Linked DNA regions of Homo sapiens: all the other regions are reported to be linked to region 1. The links are microRNA targets in miRTarBase. Many come from high-throughput screens and were not tested one by one. Region 1 holds a microRNA gene; each other region holds the end of a gene's coding sequence.

Region 1 (3,098 bases):
ATTCTATAAAATTCTTTTGAGAAGTTTCTCTGCTCATTGATCTTGAAAATCTCCTTGCTTTAGAGAATGGATGTGCTCCTCATATGCTAAGGATAAACCAGATTTTGGTAAATCAGGTTATCTTAGGGGTCCCAGGTGAGTTTGCCATTTTAACGATGCTTAGAGTGAATCCTTGTATAAGGGAAAGTATCTTGTATATTCTGTATCCTTTAGGAACTCACGTCTGTTGACTTTATCAGATGTTGGGGTGGTGGTGAGGCTAAAGACCAATAGGCGACATATGGCAGGATCTTCCCTCCAAGTGACCCTCTGGAAAGGGCTATACTTACTTAATTTTGGTGGAGCTCATCATAGGGTCAGGAAACCAGGGAGAAAGCTGAGCAACTGGTATTTATAGATCTTTCTCTTTAAATCAGGTTTGCTCATGATTTGTCTGGTCTTTATTCTTCTCCATGTCTGAAACTGAGTTCCTTGGATTCCCTTCTCTTCAAAGCCCTCTTGGCAACCTTCTGAGGAATGGCAGAGTTCATTCTGATCCACGTCCGGTGAGCGTAGCTCAACCGTGATGGAGCTTGACCTGTCAAATTCACAGAAAAATGTCCGTTACATATTCCAGCTGTTCCTTAAACATGCTCCCTAAGAGCTAGTTCCATTTGTTAGCTGTCAGAACGATGTGGAGGAATTGCTCCAGACCCTTGGATGTCATCAACCACTTTTGTTTATACACCAGTTATTTTCTCTATTAGCAAATCAATGTTTGGCAAAAAGAAAGCACAGGCTAAGAACTTTTCCTGATGAGTTGCTGCCCCAGCCTTGGAACTCTTCTCAGCCAAAAAAAAAAAAAAAAAAAAAAAAAAAAAAAAAAAAAAAAAAAAAAAAAGAAAGAAAGAAAGAAAGAAAGAAATTGAGGAGGAATTCAGTTTTACATGTTTTCCTTCCTGCTTACATGAACAGAGGAGGCCTACCTGAAGCTGAATCCAAGCACTGCCTTTGACGTTGGTAAAGATGGGGCTCTGAGCTCACATATCACCTTGGAAACTGGATCCTGTTACTGCTGGGAAAGGAATGCTTGGTTGCCAAAAGCATTAAGATAGGGAATGTGGATTCCACCTCTCAGTGCTCCTGCCTTGGATCAATTAGGTAGGATACTACCCAGAGATACAGACATGATGGACCAAGTAACTTCTCCAAACTTTGATTCTCTCTGGATCCCATGGATATGGGAACTGTGATGTCCAGGAGATCCAGAGAGAATCAGAGTTTCAGTGAGTGAAACCTAGAGTGTGTGCTGCTAGGATTTTCCTCATAAACCTGGGTGTTTTATTCTTGTGGGCCAGAAAGTTATTTCATTCCTAAACCCGTGATGTAGACTTCTCAGAAATTCCAGTGGTGTGGAGGATCCAGCTTCTATCAGCTCACAAGAGCTGATTGCACATATCTCTCCCCAACTGCTGTTCAGTGGCATCAAGTTGGTAGCTTGAAATCTGCCATGATGAGAGTATTTACACTATAGAAATTGGCAAATATGGCAAATAAGGGTCCCCACCACCCATGCTTGTGAAACATCTTCCAGCACACCAAGGAAATTATCCTAACACGTAACATCACTTATGGGGGCTGTTTAGCTTCAGGGGAGGAAATCCCCTTTGCTCTGATCTCATTGTGTGTACCTGCTTTGCATAGGCAGACTACCCCTTGTTCTCTCATCTATTAAACTCGACCTGAGAGAGAGCTTCATGAGATGGGTTGTGTGACAGGAGATCACTAGGGTAATGAGTCTGTTCCTTTCGCTGCTCAGCTATATGACAGGTTATTTTACCTCTCTAGGCCTCAGCTTCCTCTTCACTATAATAAAAGTAATTTAGATCATTAAATAATTGCTAAGTTTCCTTGTAGCTTCGACATTCTGCAATTTGATGAGTGCTTGGCTGCTGGAAAATGTCATGTGTTTCAAAGGCTTGGGGCACATGCACATCATTCACAGTGACCAGCTGAGCTCTCTCATTTTCTTTCTGGATCTTGGACTCCCAGTAATTCTACTTTTATCTGGACTTCTATCTTCAGCATGAATGAGCAGGGTGCCTCTAAGTGAGAAGCATAATTGATTAGTTCCTTCCATCTGGGGGTGTCAAAGCACTTTCAAGTCAGTAGTCAGTATCCATCATGGTTGCTCTGCAGGGAAGACTGCCTGAGAGTGCCTGTTTTGCAAGGGACATATCACAGTGGTGGACCAAGGACCCAGAATTATTGACTTGTCTTTTAATCAGAAAAGGGGCTACTTCCTGGTCTTAAAGAAGTTCCAGCTTTGAGATTAATCTGCTGTCTATAACCCCAGATCACTTGGCATGCTCGGCCTGGCTGACCTGCTGACAGAACTTGATATATTTCCCATCTCTCTGACATGGAGATAAACCTGAATAGGATTTTGCTAGTTCAGAGGATTTGGGGATACATGTTTAGGTAAAGTTTTCCTATAAAATTCCTTAAAAGAGGTGTGGTGTGGGTTTTTGTTGGGAATTGAGGCTACACTTAATGGAATGTGGAAGAGACCAAATCCACCTTTATGGGGTGCCTGGATGGAAAAGGTGTACTGATAGGAAGTTGGGACTGACCACAGACTTGGGCTGCTTTGTGATTTTGCTTACAGTCTTGCCAAGACCTAGCATCTGCCAAAATACGTGTCTCTGGGCCCTCTCTACCGAAATGTACACATTGACATGCACCAACTCATGCCGCTGTTGTTATGATTGTGTTTATGAAGCCATTTACTCTTGAATCAAGAACCTGAGTGACTTGCTGAGTGTTTGTAGGTTTATTGTCCACTCTGCCAGCTGACTGGGCTGTGTGTGTTCAATGGCTGAAGCCATGATTCCCACAGCTGAAGGTTTGGTCCATTGAGTCTGCCACCATAAAGCACAAGCTATGTGAAGGGCTGGAAAAGAAATAAATTCTTCTGGGATTAACTCCAAAGCAGAAGTACAGTTCTGTCTTGCACAGATAATAGAGGCTGGGTTCAAACTTCTTGGGGTCAGACTGCCAGCTGTGACCCACATTGGAGGTCTACCATCTTTTCTTGTTGGAATACTTCCTAAGAATAT
Region 2 (3,000 bases), not on the chromosome of region 1:
AGTGGGCCCAACTCTATCCTGTGCAGGGGGCGGCCACCTTTGGAGGAAAAGAAAGCCCTCTGCAAAGCCCCCTCTGTGGCCTCCTCCTGGCAGCCCTGGACACCTGTCCCCCAGGCTGGGGAGAAGCTGCTTCCACCTGGAGACACTTCAGAGGACTCCTTGTTCACGCCTCGTCCTGGGGAGGGCAGCGCTCCTGGGGTGCTGCCCAGCTCCCGGATAAGGCACAGATCGGAGCCCCAGCACCCCAAGGAGAAGCCGTTTATGTTCAACCTTGATGATGAAAACATACGGACCTCTGATGTGTGATGGAGCACAGTGCCATGGGAGGGAGGGAGGGAGGGAGGACTTGAGAGAAGGAGGCTGTGACTCAGTTTCTCTACCTTGTTGGAGGGTAGTCAGAGGCCTTTATGTCACTCATATTCCTGTGGATGCTCTTTGGGAGGGAGGGGCCCATCCAGCTGGGCTGTGTGTGTGTGTGTGTGTGTGTGTGTGTGTGTGTGTAATATCAACGCAGTGTATTTAATTTGGGGAAGTCACTAGGTTAGAACTGTAGGCATACTCAGTGGAGAGGAAGCTACCTATTCTATTCTAACTATTCTGAGGTCTTCCTGGAGAGGGATTGTTTTAGCAGCTCCTCTCCAGAGGGGGCTGGAAGTCCAGTTTCACCAATGACCAAGTTTTATTTCCTTGTCCTTGTTTTAGTTTTTTCATTTTGTTTTCAGTCCAGGTGCCTCGCAGCTCTTTTGGAATGGGCCAGCATTAGTCTAATTTTAAGCGCTATGTGTTTTGTACCCTTGCAAACTTGCTTTCTCTTTCTTCTTGCTGTTGCCCTTTGAATGAAGCCTTGTGTGCTTGCATGATCAGACCCTGTAATAGGATGAATTTCCATGCACTTAACATGAAGAGATACAAAAAGAATCTAGAGAGAGATATATATTTTTAATGAAATAGAAGCTTGGCATAGAAACATTGATTTAGATGTTATGAGTTGCTGGCCAGAGATTCCTCAGATAAAAGAGCCTAGAAAATTGAGTTTTGAGCGGGCATGGTGGCTCACGCCTGTAATGCCAGTAGTTTGGGAGGCTGAGGCGGGTGGATCACCTGAGGTCAGGAGTTCGAGATCAGCCTGGCCAACATGGTGAAACCCCGCCTCTACTAAAAAATATGCAAAATTAGCCGGGCGTGGTGGTGCAGGCCTGTAATCCCAGCTACTCAGAGGCTGAGGCAGGAGATTCACTTGAACCCAGGAGGTGGAGGTTGCAGTGAGCCAAGATCGCGCCATTGCACTCCAGTCAGGGCAACAAGAGTGAAACTCCGTCTCAAAATATAAAAGAAAATTGAGTGTCCCACCCAAATTTTAGGGCGTACCTCCTTCCATTTGATAAGAAGATGCTATTTCCAGTGTCCCTGGGAGAATTCTTCCATCCAGTTTATATGGTGAATTGCCACCAGCGTTCCCTAAAGGAAGAGAGAACTTAGCTTATTTCTGTCTGTGACTTTTATCAGCTAGATCAGTTAATTGTATTTTTAAATTAAAAATTAGTAACTAGAGGAAGAGACTAAGAGAACTATTTTTACCTGAGTAAATGCTCTCCTCTTCTTGTGTCCAAATCTAATGCAGAGGTGAAAACACTTGATGAGAAAATCCTTTGTGGCTTGAGGGGAATCATGTTTCTTTCAGGACGTGTTGTTTCCCTGAAGTCTATGTCACACTGAGAACTTTTTCTGACTGCACTGCTTTGGAGCTATTCATTTAAATTGAGTTTGGCCTAGTTTTCCTGGTATAAAACAGGAAATCTACATTGTTCCCTCTTTCTCTCCCTTCCATCCCTTCCCCTGCCTTTCCTATACACGCTGGTGTGCTTTTGCCCTCAGAAATTCTTGGTTTGGGAGTTATGTATTTTTGAGTGATCGAGGTTATGACATACTTGGAGCGGCATGATTTCAAGAAGCCATTCCAAATTCTTATAGCTCCTTAGCTCTGGTTTTACTCTCGTATTTTCCCCAAGAAAATTTTTTGGCTATTCAAAGAAAGCACAAAATATGTGATGTGGAACTCATGAAAATAGGGACTTTTGATATCTCTTTAAATATTCCCTGACTCACGGAAAAGATGTCCTCTTTTGGTGTATACATTGTGAAAATCTACCCATTTATCTCTCTCTCTCTCTTTTCTTTTAAATAAATTATCTGATAAGGCCGGCAAGGTGGCTCACGCCTGTAATCCCAGCACTTTGGGAGGCCGAGGCGAGCGGATCACGAGGTCAGGAGATCGAGACCGCGGTGAAACCCCGTCTCTACTAAAAATACGAAAAAAAAATTAGCCGGGCGCAGTGGCAGGCGCCTGTAGTCCCAGCTACTTGGGAGGCTGCGGCAGGAGAATGGTGTGAACCTGGGAGGCGGAGCTTGCAGTGAGCCAAGATCGCGCCACTGCACTCCAGCCTGGGCGACAGAGCAAGACTCCATCTCAAAAAAAAAATTATCTGATAGGTTACTATTGCTAAATTAATTGGCCATTATAATAAGCTGATTTGTTTCTTATTCAGCAAGATCTCTTTTGAGAATGTGACAAATTAAACATACATAGAATCCATATGGTATTATCCTGATAAAGGGAAACGAGGACACTAAGACTGTCAAATGGAAATCTTCTTGTCAATTGGCAAACACTTGGGAATTCCACATTAGAGCATTGCTTGTTTTTAATTTTTTTTTTTTAATTTTTAAAAGACAGGGTCTCACTCTCTTACCCAGGCTAGAGTGCAGTGGTGTGATCATAGTTCATCATAACTTTGAATCTCTGGGCTTAAGCAATCCTCCCATGTTAGCTTCCCAAGTAGCTAGGACTACAGGGTTGTGCTACCACGCCTGGCTAATTTTTAATTTTTTTTTATCTACAGAGCCTGGCTATGTTGCCCAGGCTCTCTCAAACTCCTGGCCCAAGTGATCCTCCTGCCTTGGCCTCCTAAAGTGTTGGGATTACAGGTGTGAGCCACTGCA
Region 3 (3,098 bases), not on the chromosome of region 1:
CCAAGAAATCTTGATCATACTTTCTAAAATATCATGTCACTTTGCACAATTTGTGCTACTATGCATTACAACTAAGATTAGAGTTCCAGACAACAGTGATGTCATTTCATGACCATTTAGAAACCTTACATGCATCATTCTAAGCAATGGGCAAGGTATTGCATAAATATTGTTCTAAAAGAGGACCCCGGGGGTGGAGGCATTTTTTTCTAAGGTGACCAAAGCACCAAGAATCGACCTTTGTACAGATGGGGGAAACATTCAGGCAGATAGGAGTATTTTTACGATGAACACAAACACAGCCAGTACCTGCACCATCTTTTCTGTTTACAAAACATACATACACGCCCATGGCTTTGAGTGAGTCCCAAACACTCAAACCTGTTTTTCTGCAATCCTCTCAGAACCACAGCCTAATGGTGCTTGTAAGGATGGAGCTTTGGTTTTGTATAATGAAAACACCAATACGGTGCTTTCGAGGTCCAAATTAGATATACTCATCCTGTACAAATGCAGAGAAGTGCCAAAATGGCTATCTTATCTATGTATTTAATGGATTTGGAAGTACCTTTTGTATATGTTTTTCCAAATTATTGGTTCACCTTTGAATCCCTAGAACAGGTATCATACACTCCAGATTCTGACTGACGATGGATCAAGCTTTCTTTTCCTTACCTCTCCCTATCTACATATCAGAGTGTTTTGGCAATTATATTAATTTTCTAAAAAAGATTACAAACCTAACAGGTGGAAAAGTGGTCTTTGTTATAGTACAAATAAATATTACCTATTTGTCCTCTTCACCATGGTTTCAACCCACCACTATTGGATTTGAAATATCTTTCTTCTCTCTAAGTATTCTCTGTATGCCCCCCCTCTTTTTTTTTAAGAACCAGGAAAACATAATGGCAAGTTATTTAAGATTTAAAATGTTATGCAGCAAATAAATAGGACGCTGTTGAACCCCAAGCTCAGGTGTGAATTCAATGGATGCATTTTGGCTTTTCTTTCAATTCCGTGAGCTGAACAAATCATGCTTGGAAAGAATGAGAAGAATCTGCCAATAACACATTCAATCATCATGATAAAAACATGCAAACCAAAAAGATAGTCTTCATTTGGGTCTAGATAGCAATTAGAGTTATAGGAGGACTCCTCTCCATCAGAAGCGTAGATCGCCTCACTCAGGGGAAAGTCCCAGGTCAGATATTTTAACTTTTTATTTCATCTTGGCCATCTTCACACCCAGTAAACCCCTCTGTCTGATGTGAGGCAAGCCCAAAGCCATGCCATGTAAATACCGCTCTCTACCTGGAACTCTCCTAGTGTCCTACCTTTCTAGCTTGTTCTGAAAGTCTTCTATTTGTAAACCAATGCTCTGACAATAGGGTGTGGTGAGCGATTATATGTTATTAGTTTTTCATATTCGATCGTGAATTAAGAGCTAATTAACTAGGAGCAAATCCGTAACTTAACATGACGTCAACTGGATTGGTCAGCACAGAAGGTTTAGTTCAGGTTGGGTTCCCATCTTGGGGAATGGCCGAAGGTGGAGGACCACCTGAACACATAGGAGGGCCCTTAGTGTATGCGGGCATCATGCTGGAAGGGAGAGAAAAAGAAGTAGAGAAAACACAAATGGGCAAATGAAAGAGATTGGTTAAGACCCAGCCTTGCTTATCCTCAACATTTGAAAATGGCTGGTGAAACTAATCTGCCAAAGCATTTGACCTTGGTCTCTGCCCTGTTTCCTAAAAATGACACAAATGGTCTGGGCATGGTTGACTATATAAGGCATGGAACTTCTATGACACATGATGCACATTATCTTCAAGCTATGGGACTCCATGCACATTAACATAAGTGTACAGAAAGCCATTTGTTTCTTTATGTGAAATGAAACCTCAAGGGCACACATTGCCTCTATCTTTGTTAAAGGTGGGCTCTAATACTGGTCTATCCACAAGAAAACCAAAAGATGAAAGAAGAAAATAAGCTTCTTTTCATCTCAATGTTCTGCAAAGAAGAATATTTTTCTACCAACCTGTTAAGGGCACATGCTCATTCATAGGACACTTAATGTAGAAAATAACCAAAGGGAAGAGGTGGAAGGTGGCAATTACTAAAAGTAAGCTGCAAAAAAGCATTCATTACAAGTAACAATCATAAAGACAACTTTAAGCTATTCATGAGCTGATTAAGGAATCTCTATATAGTAACTACTTCTAGCACTCTCCAATCTTTCTTCCATTGCTCAACTTTTTGTCACTTTATAAGTCATTGGCATTGCTATGGAAAGGTGGGGTGGTGAAATGGAATGGTGACAGAAGTTAGTATCTAATAATTAAAATGAAAGATAGCCTTGGCTGGACACTGGAGCTTGCCTTGGGTAATTCAGGATTATGGATGATGAAGGCCTAAAAAAAGCAGTAGTAATCTGTGAACTTTATCTCTCTAAACCCGTTTTATTCTAGTTCCCAGCTCTAAACTAGAGGACTTAAGAGAATGATTAGGACTTAGTTTTCATGTTCTGGTCTTTCATTAAAATAAATCCTACTCCAGCAAGCTACTATCCTGCTTGGCATTGGGAGATGCTAGCTGCCTCTAAGCAGACCCATCTCCCTGTAAGAAAGCTCCTCACCAGGCTAATCGCAATGCCTCAGAGCAAACCCATACCTGCAGAGCTATTCTTCATCCACGTCTGTTACAAACTGTGAATGGTGTTCGGGTGACTTGCTGTGCGTTTTGCTTAGGTGGAGTTTTACCGCATGTTTGCTCACAAATGTCCGACAGCACAACTTACACTTGAATTTAGAGTCTGTGTCCTCTTCGGCAGCTATTGTTTCTGGAGACCTCTGAGCCGACGATACCCGGGAGATCTCTTGCTCCACCTTGCTTTGCTGGTCCACTGACAAGCGGGTCATGTCCTTCATTTGGAAACCCAGGTGAGATTCTAAGTGACTGATGTAGGTAGAAGGGGTTCTGAACTGGGAGGCACAGTCACTGCAATAAAAGATGGGGTGGCCTTTGTCCATGTTTTTCAGAAATTTTGTCCCGCCCGTTTTCCTAAGCTGGTACTTGACGTTGGCCAGCCAGTG
Region 4 (3,098 bases), not on the chromosome of region 1:
GGCAACAAGAAACTAAAATATTCACAAAAATGATGAATGAAAAAAAGTGTATTATGTATGATTACATTTACATAAAATAAAAAACAGGCAAAACTAATCTATGATTTTAGAAGTCAGGATAGTAACTTTCAGCAAGAAAGAAGACAGTGTTAAGATGGGGAAAGAGGAGGGCTTCTGGGGTACACATAATGCTCTGTGTTTTGATCTGAAGACTAGTATGTGAGTTTGTTTAATTTGTGAAAACCTTTATTTGTGTACTGTTTTGTGTGTGTGTGGTATATGCAGTTTTAAAAACTGATGCCTTTTAAACACTTACTAATCTGATAATCTGCCGAAAAAGAATATATAACATATATTCAAGGGGATGGAAAAATACTTACTGAACAATAATTTTATTTCTCAAGAACGCTGAAGATTTTGTTTCTCTCTTCAAAAGATTTAAAAAATTTTAACTGGCAAAACATAATAGTGACTCTTAAATGCTAAAAAAAAAAAAAAAAAAAAAAAAAAAAGAAAAAACCTAAAAATAAAATATTGCATAAGTAAGCTTTGTTATGCCTCGATCTTAGGACTGTAAATTATAAAAATACAAGTAAAACCACATTTTTTGAAATAACAGTAAACAAAAACAAAAGGCAGGTACTACATACCAAATGACCAAAATGTCTTTTGGGCCTAAGATTCTTGAAAATAGTAAAAATGGTAATAATAGAAATCTCTCTATAGAACATTAAATATAAAAACCATTTATAAAACACATCACAATTTTATTGCTTGAAGAATACAGCATATGAAATCACAAGAATGTCAAAATGAAAAGTCACTAGGCTTCAAACGTATAATACATTATCAGATGCAGTAAAATATTAACCTGAACTCTGCATCAGAAAAAAAAAAAAAGGTGTGGAAAATATCTAAGTTGTTTACTTAAGAAACAGATATACTTAAAATAGAAAGTATAAGGATGTTACAGTACAAATTAGAAAAGCCAACACGTATTAACTTATCGTTCTAGACTAGACTACCTTTGGTACTTAAACTTTTTAAAAAACAATTTCTTCTATCTCATCCAAATGCACTTCATGGGTATGACATCCATGAAGTAACTTCAACTTAAAACATTCAGCAAAATTAACCTTTTCACTTCATGGGGGAAGTATATTTAATAAATGTATAACAATATTTCCCTTTTACTAAAACTGCAAAATATGATCATTAAGAAACCTAACAGTTATAAAACTTTACTTACTTAGCTCTCCAATTAAAATTGGAATCCTGGGAGCCACAATCTATTTTTGGGCTTGGTGAATACATAAGTTTAAAAGATTTGGCAACTGACATAGGAATTTAATTACTTAATACTATCTTAAGTGACTTTTCCTTTCTGTTTCCAAAATATAGACATTATGCCATTTCTTCAACATCCTGGATTCCTATAAACACTACCATACTGTATTTATTAGAACCAAATTAAAGCTTCTCTAACAAGCAGGTAGAAACTATTTATGTTCCATATACGGCTGATAAGTTATAACACAACTTATGTTTCATATAGGGCTGATCAGTTAATTCATATAGGGCTGATCAGTTGTAACATAACTTCTTAAGCAAAACTAATCTTTTTTTTAAAGCTATCACTCAATTATGGAGACAATAATGTCATCTCAAAAGGTAATGTTGGACTCTAGGCCATCTAGTTGGGAAAATGTAAAAGTAATTCTAAAAACAATAAGTAAACTATAACTACAAGTTAAATTAAAAATCCCTCTCTCATAGCAAGCATGCTCATTAACTTTCATTTCTTTCCCCCAGCAAAGGTTTGAATATTCATAAACCTCAGTTAAACCAAGAGAACCAATGTAATTGTTTCAAAAGTACCACCTATATATTTGAATAATATGAGTATGGATGGACTAGGTAAGTAATACTATCAACAATTACTGAATTGGAGTGAAAGAGTAAAAATCATGACAGACTTCCAAACTGGGCAGTCTTTGAAATGTCATAGTGGAGCTCAAAATGAATTATGCTGTAATAAAACTATAGTTTTTACCTCTACACAAAACAGAAACAAAATAAAAAAACATAACCACCAAATTTATACAAATACTATTAAACATACTCCTTCCTAGTTTTTGAATGTCTTGAAGTTTTTCTAAACAAGTATATTGATCTGAGCATATATATTTATTGCCTATATATGTACTCATTTTAAAAGACAAATTCAGATACTACAGAACTGAACTCTTTCACCAACCCAATCCAATGTCTACTGATTCACACAGCACCCCCCCCTTAATAATTTAAAATTCACAAGTTTTAGTTTAGTTAAAAGGGCAGAGGAAATGCAAATGCAGATTTAGAGCTTTGTAGAAATTTCACTGTATTTTTATAAACTTGAAGTTATCTGTAACACTGTTTATTGATCAAACGAAGGACTCGCTGCTATCTAAAATTTCATAAACACCATTAAAAATTCAAAATTGATATTATACTGAACCTTAAATTTTCAATAGTTCAAAGAGACAGTTTTTACATGTATAGCACACAATAGATGAAACTTAATAGCAGACATCCCTAGAATACCAATGACAAGTCCACCAAGATGCATACAAAATTACAGATAAGCATTTCTTTCACTGTTTTTGTTGTGCAGGGAAAAACATTTATAGAAGAAATAGAAACTCAGCTGGTGAATTTCAGATATCATCATCATCTTCTTCATCCTGAGAAGATCCCGCCTGATTAGATGCACTGGCTGAGGCAGCAGCAAGCTGGGCTTGTTGGGCAGCTTGCTGCATTTGAAGCCATTCCTGTTGGGCCAATTCTGCTTGTTGCTGTCTAGCCTAAACACCCAAAACATAAAAAAAAATAACAATTTTTTACAAACCCACAATATATACACTTTGGTTAAATGTAGATTAGGCCAATTTCAGACAGTTTATTATCATACTTGGATACTGTCCAAGTACTATGTAATTGTCACACATCTGGAGAACATAAACTCTATAGGTAAATATAATTAGAGATTGCTTTTTTCTAACTACACAGGTCTAAGAAATTTCTCAAACTTGGATCTCTTATAAATGGCCCTGTTT
Region 5 (3,098 bases), not on the chromosome of region 1:
TTTCAGGGATGCCAATGGGTCATAAGTTTTGTCTTTTTACATAATCTCATGTTTCTTGGAGATTTGTTCATTTTTGAAAATTCTATTTTCTTTATTTTTATCTGACTGTTAATGTGAAGAACTAGTCTTTGAGTTCTGAGATTCTTTACTTGACTTGGTCTACTCTGCTGTTAATACTTCCAATGTGTTATGAAATTCTTGTGGTGAGTTTTTCAGCTCTGTCAGATCAGTTTTGTTCTTTCTTAAAATGGCTATTTCATATTTCATTCCTTGTATGGTTTTGTTGAATTCCTCAGATTCCTCGGAATGGGTTTCAATCTTCTGATTTTCAGTGATCTTCATTGCCATCCAGATTCTGAATTCTATTTCTGTAATTTCATCCATTTTATTCTGGTTAAGAATCACTGCAGAGCAGCTAGTTCAGTCATTTGGAGGTAAGGAGGCAATCTGGCTTTTAGAGTTTCAGGAGTTCTTGAGCTGGTTCTTTCTCACCTATGTGGACTGATGTTTCTTTAATTGCAGTGTAATTTGAGTATAGTCAGTCGGTTTCATTTCTGTATGTGTTCAGAGGGCTGAGGCTTTGTGCAGGGTCTTTATTTGCAGTTGAGTTCTTGTCCTTGGTTTTACAGAGGAGTATATTACCAAAGTATTTTTGGTGTTGAAGTTTGGTTTGCAATTTAATAGATAGTGCTTAAACATAATGACTGGTAGATAGGCTCTTACCCAGCCATGCAGCCCCTCTGTGTTTCCTCACATTTGTAGCCATGCTTCCCCTCAGTGCTCTGAGAGTGTGTGATCCTCTCCCACTCAAGTGCTGGTCATAGATCTCAGCTTAGCACTCCCAGACTGTGCACTGCAGGCCTGAGACAAGCTTAGGATTTTTTCTCTCTCCCCAGCTTGGTGGCAGCAGGGGCAGGGACCTTGGCATGCCACTCAGAGCCACTGCCAATTAGAATAATCAGCTGGGGAAAGGTGGTTGCATTGCAGGCCCAAGCTAGGGGCTCATGACTGGTGAAGAGCAGGAGGGCAGGGGAAGGCAGTCTTGCCTCTTTTCCATAGGGCACTGCAGCATGCTGGAGGTGCACAAATTCCAAGATTCCTAATCCATCCCTAATTACTGGCTAGAGAGGGATAAAATTCTGATACTGACACATATGTTTGGATGGCACTCCTCTGTCTCTGTCTTCTGCTACTGGTCAGACAAGCACAGCAGGTACCATTTATTCTACAAGAAATTTCTGAGTGTCTGTAACAGAACAGTGTTAGTTAATTAGGGATTAGACATAGGCCATGAATAACAATATTTCTCATCGTGGACACTTTACCTAGAGTGACTATCATTGTGGTCAGGCCAATTCTGGACACGTATTTATTTTATTTTATTTTATTTTTTATTGTTAGTTGCCGAAAGGTAGATTCTTCTGCAAGTTTTATAAAACCTCAAAAACTAAGTGACAGCACTTAATCAATACTTCTTGTAACAATTAAATTAAAGTCAGAAGAGCATTTCCTTACTTAGTTCTAGGAAAGTAAAAGTCAATCCCATACCAACTGGGAGACTTAATTCCAAAGCAGGTTTAACGTTGGCCTGAGCTGTTTACTAAAATAAGAAACGTACCTGCCTTGAGCTTACTCCTGGTCATGACATGGAACATACTTTTGAGAAATTTCCATTTTTTATTGATTCACAATTATTGTAGTAAGATTGATCATTTGTATCTGGTTTTGTCAAGATACCTGGAGGGCTCTGTTGCTTGGCTGGTTACACAGCAAGACTATGTCTACATGACCAGCTGAGTAAAAGGAAACCTGGCTGAAACTGAATTTTAGATCATCTTGTTTGAGGTGTTTTTTTCCACACATCCATGGTTTCTGGACCCAGAGAGAAAAATATAAGGACCATATTCTGGTATGGTCCTTATAGAGAGAGGGCAATTAGACCCTTCAACTAGCTTCTCTGAACCCATTTCCCTGAGCCAGCCTACGGCTGTGATACACATCTTTACTTTAATGCAGTTTCTATATTTTATCATTTTCTTGCAATAAACTGCAAATTTGCAAGCACCGTCACTTGGATTCTGCCAGTCTTTGTCAGCAACAGAAGCCTGTCTAAGTGCCACAGTTAGTGTGTGCTTACTGACCTAGGTAGGCAGACTGAATTTACAAGGAAACATTAACAACAGGCAGAAAGAGCAAATTGTGTCATTCCTTAGACAGGCAAGAGAATTGGACAAATCGTCTACAACCACCAGGTCATTCATTTTTTGGCAATTTTTGTTAGAGTTTGTTTTTAGACAAATAGACAATGATCATTGCATTGACACAAACCATTAGCTTTCCAGCTTTTGAAATTCTTTAAAAACAATCTAAGCTGCACCAGGCTAACAAAACAGATATTAATGATTGTCTCCGTGAATGAAATTGGGAAACTTACGTAATTATTGCCTAGGTGTGGAGAGAATTCCTCAAGCTGTCAGTTCTTGGTTTTTCCTTGTGCAGAGTGCTCACCTGAGAACAGAAGATATGTTTTGATCTGTAAGCTCAGAGACTGAGTAAGGATGAAAATAAAGTTTCCTAGCTTTTTTCTATTTTTCAAGGAAAGTTCAACTTTCCTGCAAGAATGTCATTAAAGCCACCATTTGCCTCTTGGTATTGTCTAGAAATTAGTCACCAAAATATATGAACTTTTCCCAGACATCATCTGTTTTCACTTTAAAGTAGCAATATGAAGTCCTGGGTGGGATAGGTCAGGGGGCAGTGGGGGCGGGGATGTGAGTTGGGAGATGATAACATTAGAGAAACCCTGGGGAATAAGTATTGATTTTTGCTTGTTACATGAGCTGGCTGTGCCTAAGCAAGCCCATGTCATGTGTTTAAAGTGCCATTTTATCAGGAAGACATTCTAGGGTCCTTCTGTTTAAATAATTCAGTGAGGGTTTTGTGAAAATGAATTTATAGGCCAATATGAACACTTGGGTGATATACAGAGCAGCGCAGGTGCCATTACTCAAAATCCCAGTGCTATTCCACCATCCAATATACAGAGAAATATTAACCTAGGATGGTGGCAAGCTGAGAGGCCCCAAGTATTTTTCACA
Region 6 (3,098 bases), not on the chromosome of region 1:
TACCCTTTATTCTTGAACTAAGAAGACCAAACTGTTAAGAGAAATACCTGATTGTCAATAAATTGATGCTGCATAGGAATATGGCTCACCTTCCCTATATTTTACTAGCTACCTTCTTGGATGAGAATTTGTTTTCTCTCCTATGTCAGAATCTGCTATAAACACTCTTAACCATCCCCAAGCTGAATTTTTCCTTGTATCAAGTCTAAACTGCAAAATCATGAAAGAAGGCTGTGATAAGCTTCTAAAACAAACAATAAAATCCCTTAGAAGAAATTGAAGAAATTAACAATGCTACTTAGATCTTTCTCCCTCCTGCCTTCCTTTCCTTTCTCCTTCCTTCCTTCCTTCCTTCCTTCCTCCCTCCCTCCCTCCCTCCCTCCCTCCCTCCCTCCCTCCCCCCCTTCCCCGTCCCCCCCTCCCTGCCTTCCTTCCTTCCTTCCTTCCTTCTTTCCTTTCTTTTTTTCCAGTTACAAAGTTTCTCATTTTATAACATGGAACAGCTATTTACAAGGTTCCAACTTAATGACATACCATATTTGGCTCTGCAAGATTACATTCAAATATAATCTCAAAATAATTCTCTGTCCTCTCATGAACTGAACCACTTTCAGTGCTTACTACTGTGTAAGTGAGAGCAAGGGTTGGTTTTCTGACAAAGACATCTATATGCAGAGAGCCAGCTCTCTCGGCAAGACATTTCCTAAGAAATCCTTCTGGTGATGTGGTAACACCAAGCTTTGTGGTACTCATAAAATTTCTGTCTAAATTTATTACAAGTTGCCCAGCAATTTTGGTTAAGGACCTAGATCACATTTCAGTGTTAATGTCAAGATGACTCTTATAGATGTAAATTTAAATAGAGCAGGGAAGATGAATATCATGCAATTCTTAGCACCCTGGCATAGGATAACAGTGGACCACCATGAACAGTGGTGCTGCAAACACCATCAGTGAAACAGAACAGGGATTATGCAGGCAACCAAATAAAACATTAACCTAGAACACTGGGAAAAACATCTGCAGAGGAGCACAAGGAGTGAACTGCTTTTCATTATGGCCAGTGCTCTGTATTAGAGCTCTGACAGTATCTCCAGAATACAGTAGGAGCCTGGGCATCTGTTGACTTTTTCTGCCTTGCTCACTTTCACTGTATTTTATCTGAAATAGGAAACAATCTCTGCTCAGGGGAATTCATGGGACAAATGTTATTTAAGATTAGGGAGGAGGTAAAACAGGGCTGCTTAGGATCTCCAAGTGGTTCATCATTCTTTCACTGGGAGTTGACACTTGGAGACCTTCCTGTTTCTGGGGATTTACTCAACACATGCTGCTCATTTTCACAGTGGAGCAGGGCCTACCCTGTTAAATGCCAGGAAATATAAGAATCCCTCAGACTCATGAAATGAGAGTAAAATCTGAAATTTTCTCTCCTAGGTCACCTCGTCCACGTCATAATTCCTTATGCTGTTTGCTTACCCCATCGATAGTAGGCACTTTCATTTACAGTGATATTCTGAGTGACTCCCCACTCGGTTCTGATGATGGGACTAGGAGGAATATGGGGTCCTGCCCTTGGAAGGAGCATAGCTTGGTTTGAATACACACTGATGCCATGTGACAGCCATGGATGTAGGGAGGACTCTGCTCCTTGCCTCTTTCCCCGCCATCTCCCCCAGCAACTTGTTACAGCCGCATCTCACAATTACAATGCAGGACAGTATCTACAGCACAATGAGTCTATGTACACATGGACCATTCCCTTGGCATGCTTTAGAGAGAGACACACACACGCTCACACACATGTACACCCACGTGAGAGCGAAAGACTTGAGCACACACGCACAGTGGAGAAAATGAAAATGGCACTTCCTAGCATTTGCGGCATGACTAGTGCTCTGGGGAGGGGGTGGAGGTGAGGAGAGGTGAGGGAGGAAAGGTGGGTGAAAAGGGAGTATCTAGGGTGGGTGTGGGGGAGATAGAACGCACTGGAGGGAGAGGGGATGATCTCTAAAGTTGGAGAGATAGTGGAGGAAGGAAAGCCAGAGAAAGGCTCAACATAAGATTCCATTGATAGTCTGAAGTGGCTACAAGTCAGCTCAAATGAAAAATAGAATTAAAAGGTTATGGAAATATAAACACCAAAGGCAAGACCTTATTTTCTTCCCCACAGATGAAAAAAGATGAAGGAAGGAAGGATAAAGTGTGTGTTGGGGGGCTTAATATCCATCTGGTTCTTCTCTTATTTTTACAGCATCCAGATGTCCTTAGTGTGGTGTAGTCTTTACACAGCATACATTTGCTTAGTAGATATAAACATATCCCAGTAGAACCTTCTCCATCCTGAATGATACATAAATTTTTAATGATGGACTGTAAAATTGTTTTAAATGTTGTATTTTCTTCTTCACTTTCTTATTTCCCCCTTCATGTATAAACACACAAAGTTGTGAAATAAACGGTCTCCCCCATCTCTCTCTCTCTCTCTCTCTCTGTCTCTCTCTCTCTGTATTCTGTGTGACGCATTTTTGTGTGTTTTTTAAATTATTTTTAAATTTTTATTCTATTAACATTTGCTGAGAAGGCAGAGCAGAGATGCTGCCAGCAGCCACAGTGGTACGGCCAGACTGATGGATCCATTTATTCCTCTCACCGACCCAGGTCCTGCAGAGCAAAAGAGGAGAGAGAAAAAGAGAATGAGTTACATGGGCCCACTGTATGTTATAGCTGACTGCTGATGGTATCAGAGGTAAGACCTGGCCAGGTACTAGCATCTCAAAGTTACTGCACTTATGTGCAGCCCAAGAAGCGCTCAAAACTTTTCTAAATCCTTCTCCTCCTTGGGCTACAAGTATCCTAAGGGGCATCATTGGCTGAAACACTTCTAAATACAAAATGCTTTTGCCGGGTAAGTCCTTAAACTGGCTATCACTAATGTGTCTGATGGTACAGCAGGCTCCTGTTCACCCAGCCTCCTCCTGTTGGCCCTGCCCGAAGTAACTCTCTGGGGCCAGCACTCGTTAAGGTTCCAAGCATTGGTGAGGGTCCTCCAGCAGTCAGACATGGGTCTTCTGGCCAATTCATCATGGCATCTCCAC
Region 7 (3,098 bases), not on the chromosome of region 1:
TGGTTGCCAACCTTTTTGGCACCAGGGACTGGTGTTGTGGAAGACAATTTTTCCACGGACTGGGGGATGGGGGGAGTGGTTTCAGGATAAAACTGCTCCACCTCAAATCATCAGGCATTAGATTCTCATAAGGAGCACACAACCTAGATTGCTAGCAGGCACAGTTCACAATAGGGTTCGTTCTCCTGTGAGAATGGCATGCCGCTGCTGATCTAACAGAGGCAGAGCTCAGGTGGTAATGGGAGCAAGGGGGAGCGGCTCTAAATACAGCTTGCCGCTCACCTCCTGCTGTGCAGCCCAGTTCCTAACAGGCCACAGATGGTACTGGTCTGTAGCCCAGGAGTTTGGGAATCCTGCTCTACAGAGTTTCCAACCTCAGAGATGAAGCATCCCCTCTGTAAGTCAGAAAGAAATTATTCAAGTAGGAGAATTAAAACAGGATCACAGAGAGGGAGGCTGAAGAATTTGTCTTTCTGTGTTTACTTGTATGAGGAAAAACGGCACATGGAGGCATCCACAGTATTTAATTTGTTTGTATACTAGTTACAGATAAACAGGTACACCCCATATACAATTACCAATACTTTTTATACAGTTCATATTTCGGTACATCAACACTATTTTATTTACACTCTATTTATGTACATTAACATCTTTCTAAAGTCAGTGCATTGTCAACAAGTTTTATACAGTAATTTACAAGGTGAATGTAGTTAATAGTTAATTTAATAAATTTTCTGCTAGTTCATGAATTAAAAAAATTAATTACAACCAGTATAACAAACACAGATCAAACAACATTAGTAGATTGAGCTACCTGCTTAAATAAAACATCTGTAAAGAAATTATTTAAAATCTTCCACTTTTTAATGGGAATGGACAGATTTTATATACTGAAAATCTTGAAACTATAAAGTATGCATTTTGTCTGACTTTATTACATTAGACAATTTAGGCCAGTCCTACCTACTTGCAATTATATTTTTTCTGAAAAGGATTTCAATTTAGGTAGCCATTTAAGATAACCTTTCCAAATGCTCTGAGAACTAGATATTAATAGTTACTGGCCTCAGATATCAGAACACAAATACTTAGTTACATTGGTAATTACTATCTATGAGGAAGAAAGGGTAGTGGAATCTGACAATTAATGAGAATCAACTTGCAGGGTCTAAATGAATAAACAAAGACCAAAAATAAGGTGAAACATTTCCTTCAAGTATATATTAAAAAACTACACGAAAAAAATGCTACCTGAAATAAATAATATTTATACTTTTGTTCCAGTCTTGATTAGAGAAAAAAATGAAGTAAGCAAAGAAACATAACTTTCGATGACTACTGTAAAATTTAAAAAAAAGACAAATATCAAAATAAAAAAATTAGTGGACATGCAAACAAAGCAAAACTAAAGTTGACTTCCTAAAACCACCAATTTCATTAAATACACTTATGAACTCCTAATGTCTGGGATGTGTTTTGTTTGTAATTTATAGCCCTTAGAGCCATCAAATACACACAAGCAAGTTCATTTGCATGTGTTCTCTCTTTTTTAAAGTGCAAGACAAACACAGAAAAGAACAACCACTAATTGTGAAACGTGATCTAGCTCCAATGCCACTTACCTTCCCAGAAGCTCTTGTTGCAACAGGTGCATGTGAAGATGGTGCAAATATTGGCAACTGCTCCCCTTCCCTCAGCATGGGTGGGGCCGGGGGTGCAGAATACATTTCTGAGGATACTTGAAGTATCCTAAATGTAAGATGCCTCCACTGGGAGGGCCATGGTAGCTGGATTTCCCAGGATGCTGTTTCTTTCTACTGGGTCTCCCACAAGGCTCTGGGTGGAAGGCACACAGCTCTTAAGAGAGCCTCCCTTTCAGACTGACCACTATATGCCCCTGCCACCAATGACTGGTTGTGTCTCAAACATAAATACAACGGCAAAAACAAAAAGCAAGAAAGACAAAGAAAGGGTATGGAAACAGTTTAAAAAATAAATTGAAAAATCCTCGTCCATGCCTTAAGAATCATTTGCACACCTTCGTGATCTTGCTTTCTCCATCTTGTCAATATAATGGAATAAAACTTCAGGAAAAAGGAGGTAGCATATCATGTCGTCCCTAGACAACATTATAATTGTTTGTTTTTTACTCTGACTCCAAGGAAATCTTTAATATTTGTTATGATTATGGTAAACTCTATACTCACTACATATTTGTTCATATCTGGACAAGCACAATTGAATTCTTATTTGGTCCCAGGTGGCTGGTGCCAAACCTTTTGTTTACAGGCTAATGGTGGGATCTGCCTGAAAGTTCTCTATCGGAGAGCTTGTATGAGACTTCAAAATAAAATGATTACTACTCTTAAAGTTAACTATTTTAATTAGAATTTTTATTTTGTGCTTCAGGGCCACAGGATAAAATAACTACATTTAGCTTGCCTTTCAGTGACGCTTTTGCCAAATGTCAGCTACAAGGAGTCATCTCCCTCACCGCCAAGCTGTCTAGCAGCCAGAGTGGTAGCTTTACTGTAACACACAGTACTTTTTGTAATCAGACTCAAAGTCTTCATCCATACTGCTTGTGTCTGCCATCTTTTTGCCATCAGTCTTTGGCAGAAATTGTGCATAGTCTATCCCCTGCTGCTCATAGAAAAGAATGTAGGCAGAGTCGGTGTCAATTTCATCCGGGTGAAGTTCCTGAAAGGGCAAGAAAAACCTTTAACAAAAAGCCATCACTACTATGGCTCTAAATCCTTGCCAGGAAAGGGAAGACCAACCCTCTGTAATTACTAAACCTGATTGCTTCCAATAAGCTCACTAGTTTGGCTGTCTCACACCTGCCCCTTTAAGATGAGCCCCATTATTTCCAATGTTTGCTTTGGGGAAAATATTTTGACCATAGACAAGTCAAAAAAGAATGACCTAAAACCTCATCAAATTCTATTTATTTATTTTTTTGAGATGGAGTCTCGCTCTGTCACCAGGCTGGTGTGCACTGGTGCGATCTCAGCTCACTGCAACCTCTGCCTCCTGGGTTCAAGCGATTCTGCTGCCTCAGCCTCCCGAGTAGCTGGGACTACAGGTGCGTGCCA

The links. The annotated mature microRNA hsa-miR-4768-5p reads AUUCUCUCUGGAUCCCAUGGAU and lies in region 1 at 1,198-1,219, shown strand. An mRNA with a match to its seed (bases 2 to 7 or 8) in the 3' UTR can be bound and repressed. Matches are read on the target gene's strand: a 7mer-m8 pairs with bases 2 to 8, a 7mer-A1 pairs with bases 2 to 7 and ends in A, and an 8mer does both.
Region 2: the mRNA of PLEKHA2 is a reported target of hsa-miR-4768-5p. Seed matches in the 3' UTR shown: 7mer-m8 at 349-355 and 7mer-m8 at 1,468-1,474.
Region 3: the mRNA of TSHZ2 is a reported target of hsa-miR-4768-5p. The part of its 3' UTR that is shown has no 7-base or 8-base seed match.
Region 4: the mRNA of DR1 is a reported target of hsa-miR-4768-5p. Seed matches in the 3' UTR shown: 8mer at 421-428.
Region 5: miRTarBase lists EMCN as a target of hsa-miR-4768-5p. The part of its 3' UTR that is shown has no 7-base or 8-base seed match.
Region 6: miRTarBase lists LSAMP as a target of hsa-miR-4768-5p. Seed matches in the 3' UTR shown: 8mer at 1,426-1,433 and 8mer at 133-140.
Region 7: the mRNA of USP32 is a reported target of hsa-miR-4768-5p. Seed matches in the 3' UTR shown: 7mer-m8 at 1,542-1,548.

Annotation. Positions count from the first base shown.
Region 1 is chrX:17,424,692-17,427,789 of GRCh38, forward strand. MIR4768 (microRNA 4768) reads left to right here and starts at 1,190; the gene lies at 1,190-1,263. The region is part of intron 1 of NHS (NHS actin remodeling regulator); the gene reads left to right.
Region 2 is chr8:38,969,478-38,972,477 of GRCh38, forward strand. It overlaps PLEKHA2 (pleckstrin homology domain containing A2), which reads left to right. Exons shown (of 12, transcript NM_021623.2): 12 at 1-3,000. The coding sequence ends at 306. Among named protein-coding and RNA genes, the nearest start is that of HTRA4, 3.2 kb to the right of the region's middle.
Region 3 is chr20:53,256,150-53,259,247 of GRCh38, reverse strand. It overlaps TSHZ2 (teashirt zinc finger homeobox 2), which reads right to left. Exons shown (of 3, transcript NM_173485.6): 2 at 2,677-3,098. The coding sequence ends at 2,685. Among named protein-coding and RNA genes, the nearest start is that of TSHZ2-AS1, 250 kb to the left of the region's middle.
Region 4 is chr1:93,360,241-93,363,338 of GRCh38, reverse strand. DR1 (down-regulator of transcription 1) reads right to left here. Exons shown (of 3, transcript NM_001938.3): 3 at 1-2,846. The coding sequence ends at 2,700. Among named protein-coding and RNA genes, the nearest start is that of DR1, 16 kb to the right of the region's middle.
Region 5 is chr4:100,407,848-100,410,945 of GRCh38, forward strand. It overlaps EMCN (endomucin), which reads right to left. Exons shown (of 12, transcript NM_016242.4): 11 at 2,435-2,508. The coding sequence ends at 2,474. Among named protein-coding and RNA genes, the nearest start is that of SNORA101A, 14 kb to the left of the region's middle.
Region 6 is chr3:115,807,751-115,810,848 of GRCh38, forward strand. It overlaps LSAMP (limbic system associated membrane protein), which reads right to left. Exons shown (of 7, transcript NM_002338.5): 7 at 1-2,664. The coding sequence ends at 2,567. All of the region lies in intron 1 of LOC124906269 (a long non-coding RNA gene), which reads left to right. Among named protein-coding and RNA genes, the nearest start is that of SNORD155, 96 kb to the right of the region's middle.
Region 7 is chr17:60,176,726-60,179,823 of GRCh38, forward strand. USP32 (ubiquitin specific peptidase 32) reads right to left here. Exons shown (of 34, transcript NM_032582.4): 34 at 602-2,703. The coding sequence ends at 2,530. It also overlaps a transcript of CA4 not described here. Among named protein-coding and RNA genes, the nearest start is that of CA4, 28 kb to the left of the region's middle.